2 linked regions of the Homo sapiens genome follow. The protein of the gene in region 1 purifies or fractionates together with the protein of each later gene. This does not show direct contact. Each region holds a gene or a part of one and is shown in the gene's direction. Other genes may lie near its edges.

Region 1 (10,894 bases):
GGAGGAGTGGGGTGGAAGGATACTAACTCATTGATATTTTATAATGGTGCTTTTTTTCCCTTAGAATTTCTCTATCTTCTGGGGACAATCTGACAACCATGGATTTAATTCAGATTCTTAGATTTTAAAAACAATTCTTTTGATATTCTTGGTATCTTTCATTCTCTGCCTGTTCTCTTTTTTTTTTTAATTTTTTCAGACAGTCTCTAGCTCTGTTGCCCAGGCTAGAGTGCTGTGGTGCAATCATAGCTCACTGCAGCCTTGAACTCCTGGACTCAAGAGATCCTCCCCCATCAGCCTCTCGAGTAGCAAAGACTATAGGCACACACTACCATTCCCAGCTAACTTTTTTAATCTTTAGTGGAGACGGGCTTTTGCCCTGTTGCCCAGGTTGGTCTCGAATTCCTGGGCTCCAAACAATCCTCCCTCCTCAGCCTCCCAAAGTGCAGGTGTGAGCCACTGTGCCTGGCCCTATTCTCATTTTTATTGTGATAAAAATTTTAAGGTAAATAAATGATAGAGCCAAATTATTAGAGCCAGACTACATCTACAAAAATTTAATGAAATTTCACTTGTCTGAAATCATGACACAAAGAAACAATTTTTACCAACTTTGAAAGATATGTTTGTGATGGTATAAATTAAAATTCTGGCTATTTGGCACTCACAAAAATCTGTGGAGCACCTTAAAGACATAGGTGGTATCCGCTGGGCGCAGTGGCTCACGCCTGTAATCCCAGCACTTTGGGAGGCCAAGGTGGGTGGATCACCTGAGGTCAGGAGCTTCAGACCAGCCTGGCCAACATGGTGAAACCCCGTCTCTACTAAAAATACAAAAAAATTAGTTGGGCGTGGTGGCGGGCATCTGTAATCCCAACTACTCAGGAGGCTGAGGCAGGAAAATTGATTGAACCTGGGAGGTGGAGGTTGCAGTGAGCTAAGATCACGCCACTGCACTCCAGCCTGGGTGACAAGAGTGAAACTCTGTCTCAAAAAAAAAAAAAAAAAGAAAAAGAAAAAGAAAAGACATATGTGGTATCCTCCAAAACAGTGGAAACAGTTAAGATGCTCACAGGACAGCTTTATCAGGAGAGACATGCTATACATATAAAGATATTAGGGACAGAGAAAAAAACAATTATCTTTAAAAATTTTTTTATTTTTGAGACAGAGTCACACTCTGTCGCCCAGGCTGGAGTCCAGTGACACCATCTCGGCTCACTGCAACCTCCGCCTCCTGGGTTCAAGGGATTCTCCTGCCTCAGCCTCCCGATTAGCTGGGATTACAGGTGCCCGCCACCACACCTGGCTACTTTTTTTTTTTTTTAGTAGAGATGGGGTTTTACCATGTTAGCCAGGCTGGTCTCGAACTCCTGACCTGAAGTGATCCACCTGCCTCAGCCCCGAAAAGTGCTGGGATTACAGGCATGAGCCACCACGCCCAGCAGAAGCAACTATTTTACTCACAGGCCCCAAACTGAAATGCAGGCACTGATTTTGCAAATCAGATGCTTTCCATATGGCAAGATTTTTGGTTTTTTGTTTTAAGACAAGGTCTTGCTTGCCGCCCAGGCTAGAGAGCAGTGATGCAATCTTAGCTCACCGCAGCATCAACCTCCTAGGCTCAAGTGATCCTCCCACCTCAGACACCAGAGTAGCTGGACTACAGGCACACATCACCATGCCCAGCTAATTTTTGTATTTTTGGTAGAGACAAGGTCTCACTATGTTGCCTAGGCTGGTTCTGAACTCCTGAGCTCAAGCGATCCTCTTGCTTTGGACTACCAAAGTGTTAGGATTACAGGCGTGAGCCACTGCACCTGGCCAAGATATTTGTTTTCAAAGGATGGTTAATAGTTTTCAAAGGATGGTTAATATCAAGTATATTAAAAATTCCTTAAATTACTAATTACCTTTTCCTGTCTTTTTTCAAAGGAGGATTTAACTTCATCAGAATTTTTCTTTACATTTAAAACACCTGTATCTTCAGTTTCCGCATCATCTGGTAAAGCAAAGGTCACTCTTTTCAAGCTTTCTTTATGTTGTTTATTGTCTTCATTTTCTTGAAGGTCATCATCTTCATCCCTACAATACCAAAACTCTTATAAAAAGAAATATACTACTTTCCATTAGAAAAACAAAAGGAAACAAATTTTCCCTTAATAAAGTTCTTATTTTATATACCTAATGCAACCAAATACTCAGAACTTCCAAAATCATTCAGTTATTAAGGAACAAAAGGTATTATTTAGGTAAAACGCTATGTAAGAAACAGAAAAAAAAGTGTCCAACATATAGAAAATAAATTATTCATCAATCTATAATACAAATCTCTTATCTCACAAAAATAACAGGATTTTATTGACACAAAACCAAATCAAAGTTCCTGGTAAGGAAGGTTTGATTGCTACTACCAGAGATATTTTTCTTCATTAAGTGATCTCTAATGTCCCTTTACAGTCAGAGACTTTCCTCTGGCTATCTTGAGAATATCTGATATTAGAGAATAGAACTTGCTAAGACAAACACATTTGATAACTACGAGTACACACACATGATTGGGCAATTCCAGCTTACAATGTAAAGGATGGTTCAAAATACTCACGTTTCCGAAATACTTAGTTCTTCTGCTTCTTCTTCAGCAATTTCATCATCTTCTTTGTTTGAATCCAGCTCATCATCATGAACATTTGTTATGTCTTCATCACTTTCAACTGGATCAAAAAAATCTTTGTATTTCAGATTTCTGGAACTTTTACCTGACTAAAATAAAAAGATATTAAAAACTATTAATTAGGGATAGAAAAATATATTAACACATGCATATAGATTTGCATGTATATTGTATGTATATATTACTTTCTGACTTAATAACACTACAAGCTAATAACTAATAACCAAACTAATAACTAAATAATTATTAGGTGAAAATGGCAACTAATAACACTACCACAAAATTATAAGACCAACTGGAACATAAATTGAATGGAAGTACAGATTCATTTATAACTGATAAGATAGAGCACAATATTTCTTATCACTAAATCTTCTAACTACAATTAAATCTCTCCTAGAAAAACAGAAGAAAAGCTAATTTGAGGAGGAAAGTGCTCTCTCTTCTCTCAAAACTTTACCTTAAGTTTTTTACTTCCAAACAGTCCCCCTTCATCTTCATCAGAATCAATATCTTCAAAAAAATCAATATCTTCCTCCTCCTCATCATTATCATCTTTTCGTTCCTCTTCTTTTTCTATGTTTTCTAAATAGGCCTCCATTTCAGAGAGTTTGAAGAATTTATCATCTACTATGGACTTTTCTCTTGGTTTTCCCTGTCCTTTGTTTTGCACCTTGCTCTGCTGTTCCAATTTGCTGATATCAAAGTCAAGGTCAGAATCCTCATCACTGAAAACGGGGCTTTTCCTCAGATCAGATTTGCTTGAGTTTTCAGCTCTCTCACCCATTTCAGGATCATCATTACCCATGTCGGACACTTCCTCCTCCTCTAAATCTTCTAGGTCCTCCTTGTCATCAGCCTCTATCTCTGAACCATCCTCTTCACGTTCCTGTTCTTCACTCTCTGGGAGAAGACTGATATCTTCATCATTAATTGTTTCACTAACTGCATTCTGAAAGTATTGTAAAATTGGTTCATTTTGCAATTCCAGTTGTTGCCAAATCTGCTCATCATCAAAATTTTCTATCACAAGTTTTTGCAAGGGGCTTCCATGGATCCTACCATTCTCTAATATTTTATTAAAGTCATAAAGCACTTTTGTTAAAGAAGTGAACTTTGATGCCAATCCCTCTTGAATCCTATTGGGAGGAATTAAGTGAGATTTAGAATTACAGGTAATAATTTCACAGCACTCTTAATAAAAATAAAAAAAACCCAACTCTTTTGTAAAATAAAATTTGAATGAAGTATAAGTATAGATTCTGGCCCCCAACAACATATAAGCTGATGAGCTACACTGATATATAAAACCTGTCAACCAAGTATCTGTGAATCGGCTGTATAGATTTTAGGCAGGAAAACCATTATAAATCTATTTGCTTGGAGATATATAGTGAATTAACCTTAAATTATCAATTCTGCTACATTATATACCACTCCATTCATTTGTTCACTTATTCATTCAATGATCAACATTTGCTTTGGCTACAGTGGTCAAGGAAAACCTCTCTTAGATGTCACATCTGAGAGGAAACCTACAGATAAGGAGATAGTCTTATAAAGGTTGGGAAACATGTATTCCAGGCAGAAGAAATCCTCTAAGATGCAAATCCTCTAGAGGTGAGCTTGAGGAAACAAACAGGTGACCATGGCTAGAGTGTGAAGGAGGCAGAGGGTGAAGCTGGAGAGACTGATGGGAGCCAAATTATGCATGGTTCAGGAGTAAGAATTTGTCATTTAAAGTGTAAAGAGAAAACATTTTAAGCAGAGGGATGAAATGATGATTTACACGAAGGAAGGAGAAAGGGACGAGGGAGGAGGAGGAAAGTACAGTGATTAGAAGGTTGATGCAGCATTCCAGCGAAAGGATAATGGTGATTTAGACTGGAGTTAGAGCAGTGAATATGCTGAGTATAGTTTGGAGGTAGAACTGACAGGATTGCTAAAGAATTAGATATAGAATAGAGAAAAATGAAGACATTAAAGTAGCAGCCTAGTTTTATGTTTGAGTACCTGAAAAGACAGAAGTGCCATTTACTGAGATAGGGAAGGCTTGGGTGGTGGTGTCAGGCCTCTGAGCTGAAGCTCAGCCATTGTAACCCCTGTGACCTGCACATATATGTCCAGATGGCCTGCAGGAGCCAAGAAGTCTGGGGCAGCCGAAAAACCACAAAAGAAATAAAACAGCCAGTTCCTGCCTTAATTGATTAATCAACATTACAACATTCCTCCATTGTGACTTGTCCCTGCCCTACCTTAACTGATCAATCGACCTTGTGACATTCTTCTTCTGGACAATAAGTCTTATGATCTCCCCACCATGTACCTTGTGACCCCGTCCTCCTCTGCTAATAGATAACCACCTTTTACTGTAATTTTCCATTACCTACCCAACTCCTATAAAGCAACCCCTTCCCCATCACCATTAGTTGACTCTCTTTTCGGACTCAGCCCACTTGCACCCAAGTGAATAAACAGCCTTGTGGCTCACACAAAGCCTGTTTTAGTGGTCTCTTCACACAGACGCGCTTGACAGGTGTAGCATGGGAAAAGGACTTCAGGGGATGGCAGAGTATAGGTGGGTAGAAACAACAATTCTATTAAACAGACACAACAGCTCTATTTTGGACGCAGTGAATTTGAGATGCTTGACAGTACCAAAATTTTAAAAATCGTTAAAAGTTGTACAGTGTGGATATCCCAGTTGTGTGCTACGGAATTCAAACTAAGCTCAGTCTGTAGTTGCTGTGAGCTGGGAACTCAGGGAAAGGTTGGGGTTTGAAACATAAATGAGTAATAATTTCATAGATCACATTTTAAATTCTTCAACAAAATACATATAAAACGCTTGTGTTGGGAAGAGACATGGAAGTTCTATTTCTGAAGAAGCTTAGTCATGGGGGGTGGACAGACAAGTGACAAGTTCGTACTTTCAATAAAGTATGCTAAGCGCTAAGTGCTTTGAGAGCACATAGGAGGAAGGAGAAACCAACAGTCTGTGTGTAGAGGGATGGGGGCGTAAGAAGCCCAAGGGAAGCTTCTAGGTGTTAACAATTGAGGTTAGAGTGATTTCAGTAACACTCAACTGAGAGATCCATCTATACAAATTTTAACAGTTTTTAAAATTTTGATAGCCTAGGAAAGCATAAACTCTGAAATTTGGGGAAAAGCGATTTTACGTTTCCCCTTACCTTCCCCCAGCTCCACAATTTGCCGGAGGCCTGCAACCCGCGTCCACGTGAGACCCCGGTCGCACCCCGAGCCCGGGATCTGCGCACTTACGTGAGGAAGCACTCGGGCCGACCCGTGGCTTTGCCGACTTCCGTCAGACACCGCTCCAGGGTCCGTCGACGCCAGACCTGCGGCGCCATGGCTGTCAGCAACTCCCGACACAATGCAGCATGCAAGGGAAGGGAGCCGCCCGGAAACCGCGCGGCAAAGATGCGCCCAGCGCAACTTGGATTTCAGAGCCGAAAGTTCCGCGGCGCACAGGTTCCGGACTCGCCCTCAGCCAGAGCCAATGGCAGCGCGAGCGCTTTCGCAGGAGGGTGGGAAACAAAAATCTCCATGGTCAGCCCAAACGCCTTTCAACTCTCTCCAAACTTCGTTTTGTATTTTTCAGGGGCCCACAAAGGGTGACCCGTCCTGGCCTTACGTTTCTGTTTTAGCTAAAGTAGGCCCGTTGTAGCAGGAAAGCAGCGACCTTCGCCACGCCCCTGACCTTTCTGTCCCCGCCCCCTCTGCCTCCCGCCCCGCCCTCTGCCGCGCGTCTCTCAACCTCCGTGGCTAGTCTTGACGTGGCGGGTTGCTTTCCAAAATGGCGCGGGTGCTGAAGGCTGCAGCCGCGAATGCCGTAGGTGAATACCGGGCACCGGCGACCTTCGCCATGGGACAGGGAGCGTGGGAACGGCGGTCGGGGGCGGAGGAGGCCTCGGCGTGGCCAAAGCACCTTGATCTAATGTCCTCCCCCGGGGGCGCGTTCCACAGCAGCTGCTGTCACTTAGGCAGAGGGTGCCTTCCAGAAGCGCCACCGCTTAGTAGCGGGGATTGCCTTGTGCATGAGTCCCATTTCCATCCGAGAGCTGTGCGCCTTGGGCTCTGCACCTTCCAGTATGTGGGCGGGAGAGTCGAGGGAACTTGCCCGGCAGGTCAGGCAGGGCAGGGACAGAAGTAAATAGAAGCGGATCGGTAAGTTATTTTACCGCGCACCAATAAAGAGACTGGGGAGAAACCAGAAAGGAGAGCACGTTCCGTAAAAACAACAACTACTAGTCGGCCGAACTCCAAGCGTGACCAGCTTTCTGTTGGGAACACTCAAAGGTCAGTGGTGTAAAGAATACAAAAGGAGTGGTTTTTCCACGTGCACTAATATATTTATCGCGTACACAGATAAAAGCATGTGGATTTGGAAACTTTCTTGAGTTCTCTCCCCCTTCATTTTTTTTAAAATATGTACATAGAATCAGTTATGACAGAAATAACTGTAATAATTGTCACGTTTTCTGACTCACTTTCTCCTCTTTTTATCCTTTTTTTTTTTCTCTTCCTCCTTTTATGAGAGGGCAAGTATTTCCCTTAATCTGAGATTCCCTATTAGGAAGAAGGTGCCAAGTGGTAATGCCCCAGAGTTACTCCGGGACATTCGTGATAAATCCTTCTAGCACCAGAGCCCACATTCTTAACCGTAAGGCATACCTTCCTCTTAGGTGATACACAAGATAGGAACGTAAAACTATAAATAAATGAATATTTGGGAAAAGGCATTTTTATGTCTATTTTTAGAACTGCACACTTTAATGATTGACAGTTTGGGAAAAAGTATGACTTCCAACAGGTCATATACATACTGCAAGAACTCAATACAGATAAAGGTGCATGTTTGTTTTGTACTTACATACACATCTTGGCATAAAGGAAAAATGAAGACAGTGTATTCCAAAGATTGCCTTTGATTTGTCCTATTAAGATACTTGAAGCTTAATGTCTCCACTTGTGTGTGTGTGTGTGTGGTTGAATATACATAAAGTAAAATTTACCTTTTTTTTTTTTTTTGAGACAGAGTCTCACTCTGTCGCCCAGGCTGGAGTGCAGTGGCGTTAGCTCACTGCAACCTCTGCCTCCCAGGTTCAAGCCATTCTTCCGCCTCAGCCTCCCGAGTAGCTGGGATTACAGGCACCCGGCACCACGCCCGGCTAATTTTTTGCATTTTTAGTGGAGACGAGATTTCACCATGTTGGCCAGGCTGGTTTGGAACTCCTGGCCTCAGGTGATCTGCCCACCTCGTCTTCCCAAAGTGCTGGGATTACAGGCGTGAGCCCGTCTCTACTAAAAATACAAAAATTAGCCGGGCGTGGTAGCACACGCCTGTTATCCCGGGTACTCGGGAGGCTGAGGCAGGATAATCGCTTGAACCCGGGAGGCGGAGGTTGGCGTGAGCCAAGATCGCGCCACTGCACTCCAGCCTGGGCAACCAAAGCGAAACTCCGTCTCAGAAAAAAAAAAAAAATTGCTTTTTAAGACTGAATAATATTCCATTGTGTGTGTATACCACATTTTGTTTATCCATTCGTCTCTTGATAGACATTTGGGTTATCCCCACCTTTTGGCTATTGTAATACAGCTATGAACGTGGGTGTACAAATACTTCTGAATTCCCGCTTCTTTGGGGGTGTGTATACTCATAAGTGGAATTGCTGGATTACATGGTAATTCTATGTTATGGCCCCTCTTTTAAGGAACATAAAACTTCGCCGAAAAACAAAAGCACAGAAAAATCAGAGTGAACACGTAGAAAAGTTCTGAAAATGGAAATTGAACCTGTTAGGTGGGAGACAAGAATGACCAACTTACATGACTGCATAGGTTTACTTTCATTAATCGTCTGTAAATGGGCTAACAGAAATGTAATCTGTTTACTTACTGTAATGAATAAAAAAAATTGATCATAGTTTGAAACAAGTTGAAGATATATATATGGTGCTGTGAAATTAACTGGTCAAATGTTTAAGAGAAAACTTACCAGACTAACTTGAAAGCACTTCTAATGAATGACTTTCTAAATACGTATGTTTCCTCAAACCAGATATTCAGTGAAAATTCAGACTTATGTTCGGCCAGGCGCGGTGACTCACGCCTGTAATCCCAGCACTTTGGGAGGCTGAGGAAGGTGGATCACCTGAGGTCAGGAGTTCAAGACCAGCCTGGCCAACATGGCAAAACCCATCTCTACTAAAAATACAAAAATTAACCGGGCGTGGTGGCGCGCTCCTGTAATCCCGGCTACTCCGGAGGCTGAGGCAGGAGAATTGCTTGAACCTGGGAAGCAGAGGTTGCACTGAGCCAAGATTGCGCCATTGCACTCCAGCCTGGGCTACAGAGCCAGACTCGTTTCAAAAAAACAAACAAACTTATTACGTGTTCTAAAATTAGATTATGTGAAGGTCGCACAACTTTGCAAAGATGCAAAGAAATGAATTGTACACTTCAAATGGGTGAACTTTATGGTATATAAATTTTAAGTCTGTTTAAAAACTATTAAGAGATAAAGCTGTTAAAAAACCTATTACAAGTGATTATTCACTTTTATAGTACTTTTTATACAAATTTAACATCTAATGTCTTTAAATAGTAAGTACTCTTAATGCATTTGAGTATAGATCCTTGCAGCTAAACCTTTATGTATTCAGGGACAGTGTCTAAAAAGTGTGATCTGAAATAAATGCAAAATCTGAACTGAAAGAAATGCAATGTTGTTTTTAAGTCAGGACACTAAAAGTGATTAACGAGAATTGATATTGAAAGGAAGATTGGAATGAGAGTTAACATACACATCCGATTTTGATCTTTTACTTGTATACCAGCTTCCTGACATGTGAAAATAGTTTCTTTAATCTGTATTCATCTTTACATGCGTTTTTTATTAACACTTCTGTTTTTAAATATCTTATGCATTTATTTGCACATGGTTTTACACTGTAGTATATTCATGCAAAGCAACCTTTATTGGAATAATCACAAATTAAACATTGCAGAATTCAAAATAATGCAATTCTGCTGCACTATTCTGAAATGGGAGGCAGAGAAATCTAAAACTAAAGAGCTGTGAATTCCTGCTAGTTGGAGGGCAACCTGAAATAAAAATAGCTTTAAAAAGGTAGCTTCAGTGTTGGTAATCATTTTCATAATTTATGCATTTATTAAAACATCACATTGTATACCTTAAAGATACACCGTTTCTATTAGTCATCATACCTCAAGCTGGAAAAAAGTTTCTACAAGTCAAAGGAGAAATATAATAATTAAGAGTTCAATTCACAACAAACTTTTCAGGAACACATTTTTATTAAATATAAAGCTCTGTCTCTTTTTAACTCCTTTATTCAGTGTTCTCTACCCAGTTTGCTTGGTCTACACAATTTCACCTTTGGATTTTTATTGTTGGATCTTTTTTTTTTTTTTTTTTTTTTTTGGTAAAATGTACATAACAAAACCCTTTAAAAATGTACAGTTTAGGCTGGGCACAGTAGCTCATGCCTGTGATCCCGGCACTTTGGGAGGCCGAGGTGGGCGGATCACGAGGTCAGGAGTTCGAGACCAGCCTGGCCAACATGGTGAAACCCTGTCTCTACTAAAAATACAAAAATTAGCCGGGTGCGGTGGCATGCGCCTGTAATACCAATTATTCAGGAGACTGAGGCAGGAGAATCGCTTGAACCCGGAAGGTGGAGGTTGCAGTGAGCCGAGATCACACTATTGCACTCCAGCCTGGGTGAAAGAGCAAGAGTTCGTCTCAAAATAAATAAATAATAAAGTACAGTTTAACAGTAATTATTACATTCACTGGGTTAGTGCAACTATCACATTTGTCTATTTCAAAACATTTTCACTGGCCTAGTGCTGTGACTCACATCTGTAGTCCCAGCACTTTGGGAAGCCAAGGTCGGAGGATCGCTTGAGCCCAGGAGCAACATGGGCAGCCTGGGCAACATGGTGAAACCCCATCTCTACAAAACGTACAAAAATTAGCCAGGCATGGTGGCTCATGCCTATGGTTCCAGCTACTCAGGAGGCTGAGGTGGAAGGTATTCTTTTTTTGCAATTTAGTTTCAATTGTACATTTATGTATATGTGTACTCGGTTGTAATCCACTTGGATTTCATGATAACAATGAAACTTACTAAGTTTCTAACTTGGTTTGTTGTGAATATTAGATAGTTGGTG
Region 2 (10,048 bases), on another chromosome or scaffold:
GGGTCCCTGTGTCACGGATGAGCTCATGGAGGCAGGATTGGAGCACAGATCTGCTTCTCAGGCCAGCACACCTATATCTGCCAACTTCACGGCCCATGGGTTAAAGAACAGAGCCGTGGGCTGGGCATGGTGGCTCACGCCTGTAATCCCAACACTTTGGGAGGCCAAGGCGTGTGGATCACCTGAGGTCAGGAGTTGGAGACTTGCCTGGCCAACATGGTGAAACCCCATCTCTACTAAAAATACAAAAAGTTAGCTGCGCGTGGTGGCAGGTGCCTGTAATCCCAGCTACTCGGGAGGCTGAGGCAGGAGAATCACTTGAACCTGGGAGGCAGAGGTTGCAGTGTGCCCGGATCGTGCCACTGCACTCCAGCATGGGCAACAAGAACGAAACTCCGTCTCAAAAAAAAAAACAAAACAAAAGAACAGAGCCGTGATTCTAAAAAAAAAAAATCAGGCAGTACCATCCCAGGGCGTGAAGTCAGCGCAGTTCAGTTCTGTAGAGATCCATGAGAAGTCCCAAACGTTTCCTAGCCCTAGAGTGGGGAGGTCGGGCACGGGGAGGTGCCATCCGGTTGGTCTGTGGCCTCGAGTTTTCTGGGTAGAAGCTGCTTGGGTTCCACCCCAGGGCCTGTCCGCCTGTTGAGAGCAGTGACGGAAAAGGTCTGTAGCTCAACAGCGCCCACAGTTGATCACGGAACCTCTCCCCTCCACCAAAAGAACTGCCATTAAAATCCCATGAAACCACATAGGGGCAGTGTTGACATTGGGGGCCTTGGAAAGTCCTCAGGCCACCCCTACATGAGGCTGCCTCGGGAGAGCAGGGCAAGGCTGTGGTGTGGAAGTCCCACAGCTCCAAAAGCCCTGCCCAGCCGACACACTGGCGCACAAAAGCAGGCAGCCTTGTGGACGCCTGAGGCCTGTGTGTGCTTCAGAGGCATTTGGCAGAAAGTTCTTTATAAACAAAGATCCCTGCTCACCAGTAGGCAGAGTGTGTGTGTGTGTGTGTTTGTGGTGTCAAAACCAGAACTCCAGCTTATGTGTTCACAGTGGAATTTGAAAACGGAAACCTAAAGTTGAAAATTAAAACCACTGTGTTAGCACCTCCAAAACCTGTTTTGTGCTGGGCAGGTTGTTCAGGGTGCAGGGCCCTGGTAACGCCATACCCTCCCTGCCTTCCTGACAGAGCCGTACACGGTGCGTGAGGCCCGCATCCACGTGCGCCATGTCCGAGACCTGCTCAAGAGCCTGGACCCATCCGATGCCTTCAACGGGGTTGACTGCAACTCCTTGTCCTTCCTGAGTGTCTTCACCGACGGCGACCTGGGAGGTGCGGGAGGCACTGGGGCCGGGGATTGGGCCAAAGGGCGGGGAGCACGGAGGTGGGGGGCTGGAGAAGGGGCCGAGGGGCCTGGGCCTGAGGCACCCGGACCACGGCCATCAGGAGGTAGGGAGACAGCTGGCCCTGGGTGGCCCTGTGCTGACCACCAGCCTCGGGTCCCTCAGACAGCGGGAAGCGGAAGAAGGGCTTGGAGATGGACCCCATCGACTGCACACCACCCGAGTACATCCTGCCAGGGAGCCGGGAGCGGCCACTGTGTCCCCTGCAGCCCCAAAACCGTGACTGGAAGGTAGGATCCTGGGGGAGGGAGGAAGAGGGTCCCTGGCGGGGTGGAGGCCCCACACCAGAGGCCTGGCCCCTCAGACTCGGCCGCTCCCGAAGCCCTTGCAGTGCCTGAAAGTACTCACCATGAGCGGATGGAACCCGCCCCCGGGGAACCGGAAGATGCACGGGGACCTCATGTACCTGTTTGTGATCACAGCCGAGGACCGGCAAGTCAGCATCACCGCGTCCACACGGGGCTTTTACCTGAATCAGTGAGTCCCTGCCAGCCCACCACACCCCCCTGCCGTGCCAGCCGTCCTGGGTCTGGGCAGACACCTGGGCCCCCGCTCAGTGCCCGCCCTCTCCCTGCAGGTCCACAGCTTATCACTTCAACCCCAAGCCCGCCAGCCCCCGCTTCCTAAGCCATTCCCTAGTGGAGCTGCTCAACCAGATCAGCCCGACCTTCAAGAAGAACTTCGCTGTGCTGCAGAAGAAAAGGTAGTGCCTTTGTCCCCTCCCGCCTTGTCTCATGGCACACGGGGGCATGGGGTGAGCCGGCCCACCTGCACTCCAGTGCTTCTGTCTGAAGAAACCGCCCTGGGCCCCCAGTGTTGGAGTCCCCGCTCTAGGGAGCTGTCGGCCAGTGCCGAGACAGCAGCCGCAGGAGAGGCGCCCGTGCACTTCCATCTGGCTCCAGGGCAGTGTCTCAGGGTGGGAGATGCCGGAGCAGGCGGGGGCCTCAGAAAAGGGGCCCGTGGAAGGGCTCTGAGCTTGGTGGGCTGCCCCATCTCCCCCTCCCCTGCCTGCCACAGGGTCCAGCGCCACCCGTTCGAGAGGATCGCCACCCCATTCCAGGTGTACAGCTGGACAGCCCCCCAGGCGGAGCATGCCATGGATTGCGTGCGTGCAGAGGACGCCTACACCTCGAGGCTGGGCTATGAGGAGCACATTCCTGGACAGGTGCCTGCAACCTGGCCCTGCCCTCGCTGGGCACCCCTGCCCTCCTGGGTGCTGGGCTGGTTCCGTGCACTTCCCTGGAGGCCCCATGCTTGACTTCATTTGGGAGTCTGGGGCTCTTCTCAGGAAGGTAGAAGGAGCGACTTCCGGGAGCAGGTCACAGGGCACAGGCTGAGCTCGTTTTTCCCTCCCTGATCTCTCTGCAGACCCGAGACTGGAATGAGGAGCTGCAGACGACGAGGGAGCTGCCTCGCAAGAACCTGCCTGAGCGGCTGCTCCGAGAAAGGGCCATATTCAAGGTGCCTGCAGCCTCTGCTGACCGGCAGTCTGAGGCCCGCTGTCCACCTGCTGACGGGTTTTCTCATGGAGAGGAGGAAAGCAAGGGAGGCAGGGGCAGCCCTAACCCTGTCAGGTTCCCCGAAGGCCAGTCAGCGTCTCCCGCAGGGTCTGCTAGCCTTCCGCCTCCCAGCAGACCATCCCAGTACCTTTCTCTGGCCTCTCTGAGGCTTTGAGTCCCTGGAAGGAGCGGGCCCTACTTCCCATAGGGACTGAGTGTCCAGGGCCGTGCAGCTTCCCGCCCTCTGTGACTGCTGCGGGGCTTTTGCCTGGGCGAGCACTGGCCGGCCATGGCCCTTCTAGGGCGGGTGCTCATTTGCATAACACTTTTAGTTTGCTGGGGTTTAAAAGTTATTAGTGCTGGGTTACTAAGAGAAATGAGGAAAAGCAGTTGCTTAAGAAAAAAAAAATCTCAGGCCGGCTTCAGTAGCTCATGCCTGTAATCCCAGCACTTTGGGAGGCCGAGGCGGGCGGATCACAAGGTCAGGAGTTCAAGACCAGCCTGGCCAATATGGGGAAACCCCATCTCCACTAAAAATACAAAAATTAGCTGGGTGTGGTGGCGCATGCCTGTAGTCCCAGCTACTCGGGAGTCTGAGACAGGAGAATTGCTTGAACCCAATAGGCGGAGGTTGCAGTGAGCCGAAATTGCATCACTGCACTCCAGCCTGGGCGACAGAACAAGACTACGTCTCAAAAAAAAAAAAAAGAAATCTCAGCCAGGCACAGTGGCTCACGCCTGTAATCCTAGCACTTTGGGAGGCTGAGACAGGCAGATCACTTGAGCCCAGGAGTTGGAAACCAGCCTACGAAACATGGTGAAACCTCGTCTCTGCAAAAAATACAAAAGATTAGCCAGGCATGGTGGCATGTGCCTGTAGTCCCAGCTACTCGGGAGGCTGGAGTGGGAGGATGGCCTGAGCCAGGGGAAGTCGAGGCTTCAGTGAGCTCGGATCTCGTGCCGCTGCATTCCAGCCTTGGCAACAGCGTGATACCCTGTCTGAAAACAACCAACCTCCCATAGTTATACTGCCTAGAGATGATAATTGTAGAAACAAAAACTCATTTCTCGGGTACCGACTTCACCAGAGATGGTGCCAAGTGCGTTATAGAGACTATTTCCTATAATATATTGGACAACTTGTAAAGGTCAATACCTTTATCTGTTCAAGTTCACCTGGCACATAACTGGTGGATCCCAAACCTGCGCACGCTTGTTAATCACTAAGCCCTGCTGTCTCCCTCAGCACAAGTGTATTCTCAAAACATGGGGGTTTTGGTTTGTTTGCGCTTTTTTAGAAATGGAGTCTCACTCTGTCCCCCAGGCTGGAGTGCAGTGGTGTGATTTCGGCTCACTGTAACCTCCACCTCCCGGGTTCAAGCAATTCTCCTGCCTCAGCCTGTCGGGTGGCTGGGACTACAGGCGCGCGCCACCTCGCCTGGCTGATTTTTTTTGTATTTTTATTAGAGATGGGGTTTCACCATATTGGTCAGGCTGGTCTCGAACTCGTGACCTCAAGTGGTCTGACCGCCTCGGCCCCTCAAAGTGCTGGGATTACAGGTGTGAGCCACCGCGCCCGGCCAAAACATGGTTTTCTTGCCCTTTTCTACATATGAGGAAACTGAGGCTCCGGGTCCTTGGGTTTCCAAGGCAGGCCCGGTTGCCTCCGCGGTCTAGGTGCGTGCGCTTGGCCAGGTGGATGCAGGCTCTTGTGGGCGCGGCCTCTAACCCTGCCCTCCTCGACCCCCGCCAGGTGCACAGCGACTTCACCGCGGCAGCCACCAGGGGCGCCATGGCCGTCATTGACGGCAACGTGATGGCCATCAACCCCAGCGAGGAGACCAAGATGCAGATGTTCATCTGGAACAACATCTTCTTCAGCCTGGGCTTCGACGTCCGAGACCACTACAAGGACTTCGGGGGGGACGTGGCGGCCTACGTGGCGCCCACCAACGACCTGAATGGCGTCCGCACGTACAACGCGGTGGACGTGGAGGGGCTGTACACGCTGGGCACGGTGGTGGTGGATTACCGCGGCTACCGGGTCACGGCCCAGTCCATCATCCCCGGCATCCTGGAGCGGGACCAGGAGCAGAGCGTCATCTACGGCTCCATCGACTTCGGCAAGACCGTGGTGTCACACCCGCGGTACCTGGAGCTGCTGGAGCGCACGAGTCGGCCCCTCAAGATCCTGCGGCACCAGGTGCTCAACGACCGTGACGAGGAGGTGGAGCTCTGCTCCTCGGTCGAGTGCAAGGGCATCATTGGCAACGACGGGCGCCACTACATCCTCGACCTGCTGCGCACCTTCCCCCCGGACCTCAACTTCCTGCCCGTGCCTGGCGAGGAGCTGCCTGAGGAATGCGCCCGCGCCGGCTTCCCCCGCGCCCACCGGCACAAGCTCTGCTGCCTGCGCCAGGAGCTGGTGGACGCCTTCGTGGAGCACAGGTGAGGGGCGGCCCTGCCGGACCAGGGCCGGGGCCAGCTGCAGGGAGTGCGGGCGCCCTGGGTGGATCCGGGGTTGGGTCCTTGAAGGGAGAAGCGCTGGAGAGTGAAGAAGGGCTCCGTCTAGCCACAGTCATTGGAGACCCGTCCCCACCTGCCCTGCTGTCAGGCTCCCGAGCGCAGAAACCCGGGCTGCAGACTCGCGAGCAGCCAGGCGGGTAATGTGGCTGTGGCGGACACTGTTCTCTTAAGGAGCACTTGGAAGTCTGGGTGGCTGTGACTGTCCCCGTGCTGGGGCGGGCAGGTGGGGCACCGGGGGTCCCCGCCGCTGGTGTTTAGTGCTTAGGAAATGGGGAAATGGCCATGTCAGAGGTCCCACAGCATGAGTAACTCTCAAATGCCAGTGGCTTCCTGTCACTGTTGAGAGCCCTGACCTGGATGGGGAGCTCCTCTTTTCCCATACCCTCCAGAACGCAGCTGCCTTTTTTTTTTTTTTTCTGAGACGGAGTTTCACTCTTGTCGCCTAGGCTGGAGTGCAATGGCACGATCCCGGCTCACCGCAACCTCTGCCTCCCGGGTTCAAGTGATTCTCCTGTCTGAGCCTCCCGAATAGCTGGTATTACAGGCGTGCACCACCACGCCCAGCTAATTTTTTGTATTTTTAGTAGAGACGGGGTTTCTCCATGGTGGTCAGGCTGGTCTCGAACTCCCAACCTCAAGTGATCTGCCTGCCTCGTCCTCAAAGTGCTGGGATTACAGGCGTGAGCCACCACGCCCGGCCGCCTTTTTCTTCCTGTCTTGGGAGATCTTGGTTTTTCTGCGTTGACTCATGCACACCGGCCAGGAGGTGCCCTATGCCTGCGGGGTGTGGAGCCCCAGCTGCCGGGAGCCGTGGGCCAGCAGAGCTCCTCTCCCCGATGTCCAGCTCCTGCTCTGCCCTGTTTCCTCTGCTCCAGGTACCTCCTCTTTATGAAGCTGGCCGCCTTGCAGCTGATGCAGCAGAACGCCAGCCAGCTGGAGACCCCCTCCTCCCTGGAAAATGGTGGTCCTTCCTCCTTGGAGTCCAAGTCTGAGGATCCTCCAGGACAGGAGGCGGGAAGTGAGGAGGAGGGTAGCAGCGCCAGCGGCCTGGCCAAGGTGAAGGAGCTGGCAGAGACCATCGCCGCAGACGACGGCACAGGTGGGGCTGCTGCAGATGGCCGGGAGAGAGCCCGGGCTGGCCCTGCCAGGGTGGCTTATGACCCCCACCTGGGAGAGGCTGGCAGACATCTCTGCAAGGAGCTAGGGGGCGAGGCTTGGCGCAGCCCAGCTCCACCGGTGGCAGAGGGGACCCGTGTCTCATGGAGCCATGTCTCCACAGCAGACCCTCGGAGCCGGGAGGTGATCCGCAACGCGTGCAAGGCGGTCGGCTCCATCAGCAGCACCGCCTTCGACATTCGCTTCAATCCTGACATCTTCTCACCAGGCAGGTGGTGGGGGCCGGCCAGCGCAGGAGCCCTCCAGGGCCAGAGCTTCGCTGGGGGGCCTGGGCCCTTGGGGCTGGTGGGTTTGTCCCCCATCTGAGCGCTTCCCCCGCCAGCGCCAGGCGGCATTTGTCTTGCCACTGCCTGGCTCAGCCTCTCTGCTCTCCCTCCTCCAGGGGTTCGTTTCCCTGAGTCCTGCCAGGATGAAGTTCGGGACCAGAAGCAGCTGCTGAAGGACGCGGCTGCCTTCCTGCTCTCCTGCCAGATCCCTGGCTTGGTGAGGGAGGGGCTGCGGGGCTGGGTGGGGCTTGTGTGGAGGGTGCTGGTCCCTCATCTGTCTCCGACTTGGAGGCCCATGAACACAGGCTCGCAGGAGTGACTTTTTCAGCTTTCCCTGAGTGGGCATCCCCGTTTGACAGATGGGGAGCCTGACCCCCAGAGGTCAAGGGCACAGGCCCTGCTGAGCCCACCGTGTGGGCTGGCAGCTGGTAATCCAGTCTTCTGAGCCCTGGATGGTGGCATGGCTGGGGGACGGGGCCAGAGCTCAGTGGGGGCTGCCCATCCTCCTCCTCCTCCCGCAGGCTCTGTGTCTGGTTCCAGGATGCTGGGTGCTCCCCCAACACCGTGGCCTCCAAGCCTCAGGACACGGGGCTGGGGGTCAAGTAGTGCCCCCAAGCGGGCACCTCTGCTTCTCCCACATGGTTAGAGGGGGCCTGTACCACCACCGGGCTCTTGGTTCTTGGCCTGCGCTCCTGCCAGAGGCTGGGCACATTCTGACATCCTGACTGGGAGCTGGAGCCTTCGGGGTCCTTCTCCAGGGCCTCCCAGGATAGCTGTGCTCCCCCAGAAGGACTCAGTTGGGTGGAGGCAGAGGAGCTGGGTGGGGGCCTGAGCTGCTGCAGCCCGCAGGTGAAGGACTGCATGGAGCACGCGGTCCTGCCCGTGGACGGGGCAACGCTGGCAGAGGTGATGCGCCAGCGGGGCATCAACATGCGCTACCTGGGCAAGGTGCTGGAGCTGGTGCTGCGGAGCCCGGCCCGCCACCAGCTGGACCACGTCTTTGTGAGTGCTGCCCGGGGTGGGGCGGAACGGGAGCTGTGGGACTGGGATGGAGGCCGGGGGCCTGACCAAGACCTCCCTTCTGAATCCTTCCAGAAAATCGGCATTGGAGAACTCATCACCCGCTCGGCCAAGCACATCTTCAAGACGTACTTACAGGTGCCACCCGTCCGCTCTGCGGCTGGCCATGGCCTCCCAGGGTGGTGTGGGGCGTCGGGAAAGAGCCTGAGGTGGGGCTGAGGGCCCTCATGACTCGGATCCAACCTGCCTCGCAGGGAGTCGAGCTCTCCGGCCTCTCAGCCGCCATCAGCCACTTCCTGAACTGCTTCCTGAGCTCCTACCCAAACCCCGTGGCCCACCTGCCCGCCGACGAGCTGGTCTCCAAGAAGCGGAATAAGAGGAGGAAAAACCGGCCCCCGGGGGCTGCAGATAACACAGCCTGGGCTGTCATGACCCCCCAGGAGCTCTGGAAGAACATCTGCCAGGAGGCCAAGAACTACTTTGACTTCGACCTCGAGTGGTGCGTGCGGGGCAGGGGCGGTGGGGTGGGTGGGATTGGGCAGATGAGGCGGCCACCACCTGCTCCCAGATGGCGTCTAAGGCCTGTGGTCATAGGCCAGGGAGTCAGAGAGAAGAGGGAGCAGCTGTGGAGATCACTGGGTGCTGGAGGGTGAGGGCAGCCGGGAGGCTCCCGGGGGCCGGGTGGGGCAGTGTTGGGGGCCCGGGCTGGACAGCGTTGGGGAGCTGGGTGGGGCGGTGTTGGGGGGGCCCGGCGGTGCTTGGGCTGCTCAGGCCCCCTGCTCCCTCCTCAGTGAGACCGTGGACCAGGCTGTGGAGACCTACGGCCTGCAGAAGATAACGCTCCTGCGGGAGATCTCGCTGAAAACAGGGATCCAGGTGGGCATGGCTCACAGCATCCCCGCTGTGTCCCCGCTGTGTCCCCGCTGCGTCCCTGCTGCAGGCTCCCACTCCTGGCCAGGGCCACAGGGGAAGTGGCTTTTTCACGGTAGCCGTCTGTGCGCAAGCGTTGGTGGGTTGGGAGGTGCCAACCCGCTGAACCTGGGCCTGAGGCTTCCTGTGGTGGGGGGGCTGCCCCCCAGGTCCTGCTGAAGGAGTACAGCTTCGACAGTCGCCACAAGCCCGCGTTCACCGAGGAGGACGTGCTCAACATCTTCCCCGTGGTCAAGCACGTCAACCCCAAGGCCTCGGATGCCTTCCATTTCTTCCAGAGCGGGCAGGCCAAAGTGCAGCAGGGTGTGTGGCCAGGTGGGGCTGGGTGGAGGTGGGGGTTCCCCATGGCCCGTCCTGACCTTGCCACCCCTGGGGGTGCCCTGCAGGCTTCCTGAAGGAGGGCTGTGAGCTCATCAATGAGGCCCTGAACCTGTTTAACAACGTCTACGGAGCCATGCACGTGGAGACCTGCGCCTGCCTGCGCCTCCTCGCCCGCCTCCACTACATCATGGGCGACTACGCAGAGGTACCCTCTGGGCTGTGGCAGCAAAGGCCTGGCCTCGTGTTGGGGGATGGGGAGTGAGGGGGCCCCTGACGGAGGAGTGGGTGGAGTCCAGGGAGACCCCAGGAAGTCGCTGGTTCTGCCCAGGCCACCCCTGGCTCCACCCCTCTGTAACTGTGTCCCGAGCGGGAGAGCTCAGGAGCACCCTGTGCTGCGGTGAGGTCAGTTCTGGGAGGCGATGGCAGGGGACCCCCCCACAGGGCGTCAGCAAGGACGCCTCCTGAGACTCCGTGAGTGGGCAGGAAGCATGCCACCGAGCTCCCACGTCCTCTGTGCCCAGTGCAGGCTGTGGGGTTCTGGGTGCCCTGCCTGGCCGGGGCTGGTGGAGGCTGTGGTGGGGTTCTGGGTGCCCTGCCTGGCCAGGGCTGTTTCAGGGTTAGCATGTCTTAGGATCCCTACTCCCTGCAAAGGGACTGTTTTTTCTTCTGTTTATAAATGGGTGGGTTGTTTGTTTGTTTGTTTGTTTCTGAGACAGGGTCTTGCTTTGTCACCCAGGCTGGAGTGTAGTGGCGTGATATCGACTCCCTGCAGCCTCAACCTCCTGGGCTCAAGCGATTCTCCCACCTCAGCCTCCCGAGTAGCTGGGATTACAGGCGTGAGCCAGCACACCCAGCTAATTTTTGTATTTTTAGTAGAGATGGGGTTTCATCATGTTGGCCAGGATGGTC

The links.
Region 2: the proteins of MCEE (region 1) and CLUH purify together in Homo sapiens (co-immunoprecipitation; 2 studies listed by BioGRID and IntAct, with this or other methods). This does not show direct contact.

Annotation. Positions count from the first base shown.
Region 1 is NC_000002.12:71,125,817-71,136,710, reverse strand, and holds the start of MCEE (methylmalonyl-CoA epimerase, mitochondrial precursor), read left to right. Parts: upstream 1-6,481; 5' UTR 6,482-6,491; coding exon 6,492-6,531; intron 6,532-10,894. Other genes in the region: MPHOSPH10 (U3 small nucleolar ribonucleoprotein protein MPP10), read right to left, coding at 1,914-2,085, 2,606-2,763, 3,135-3,813, 5,957-6,045. UniProt on the Homo sapiens protein: Methylmalonyl-CoA epimerase involved in propionyl-CoA metabolism.
Region 2 is NC_000017.11:2,693,196-2,703,243, reverse strand, and holds part of CLUH (clustered mitochondria protein homolog), read left to right. Parts: intron 1-1,186; coding exon 1,187-1,330; intron 1,331-1,506; coding exon 1,507-1,631; intron 1,632-1,723; coding exon 1,724-1,878; intron 1,879-1,978; coding exon 1,979-2,104; intron 2,105-2,418; coding exon 2,419-2,566; intron 2,567-2,769; coding exon 2,770-2,862; intron 2,863-4,653; coding exon 4,654-5,348; intron 5,349-6,301; coding exon 6,302-6,525; intron 6,526-6,705; coding exon 6,706-6,810; intron 6,811-6,984; coding exon 6,985-7,085; intron 7,086-7,717; coding exon 7,718-7,870; intron 7,871-7,963; coding exon 7,964-8,026; intron 8,027-8,142; coding exon 8,143-8,387; intron 8,388-8,679; coding exon 8,680-8,764; intron 8,765-8,967; coding exon 8,968-9,121; intron 9,122-9,204; coding exon 9,205-9,344; intron 9,345-10,048. UniProt on the Homo sapiens protein: mRNA-binding protein involved in proper cytoplasmic distribution of mitochondria.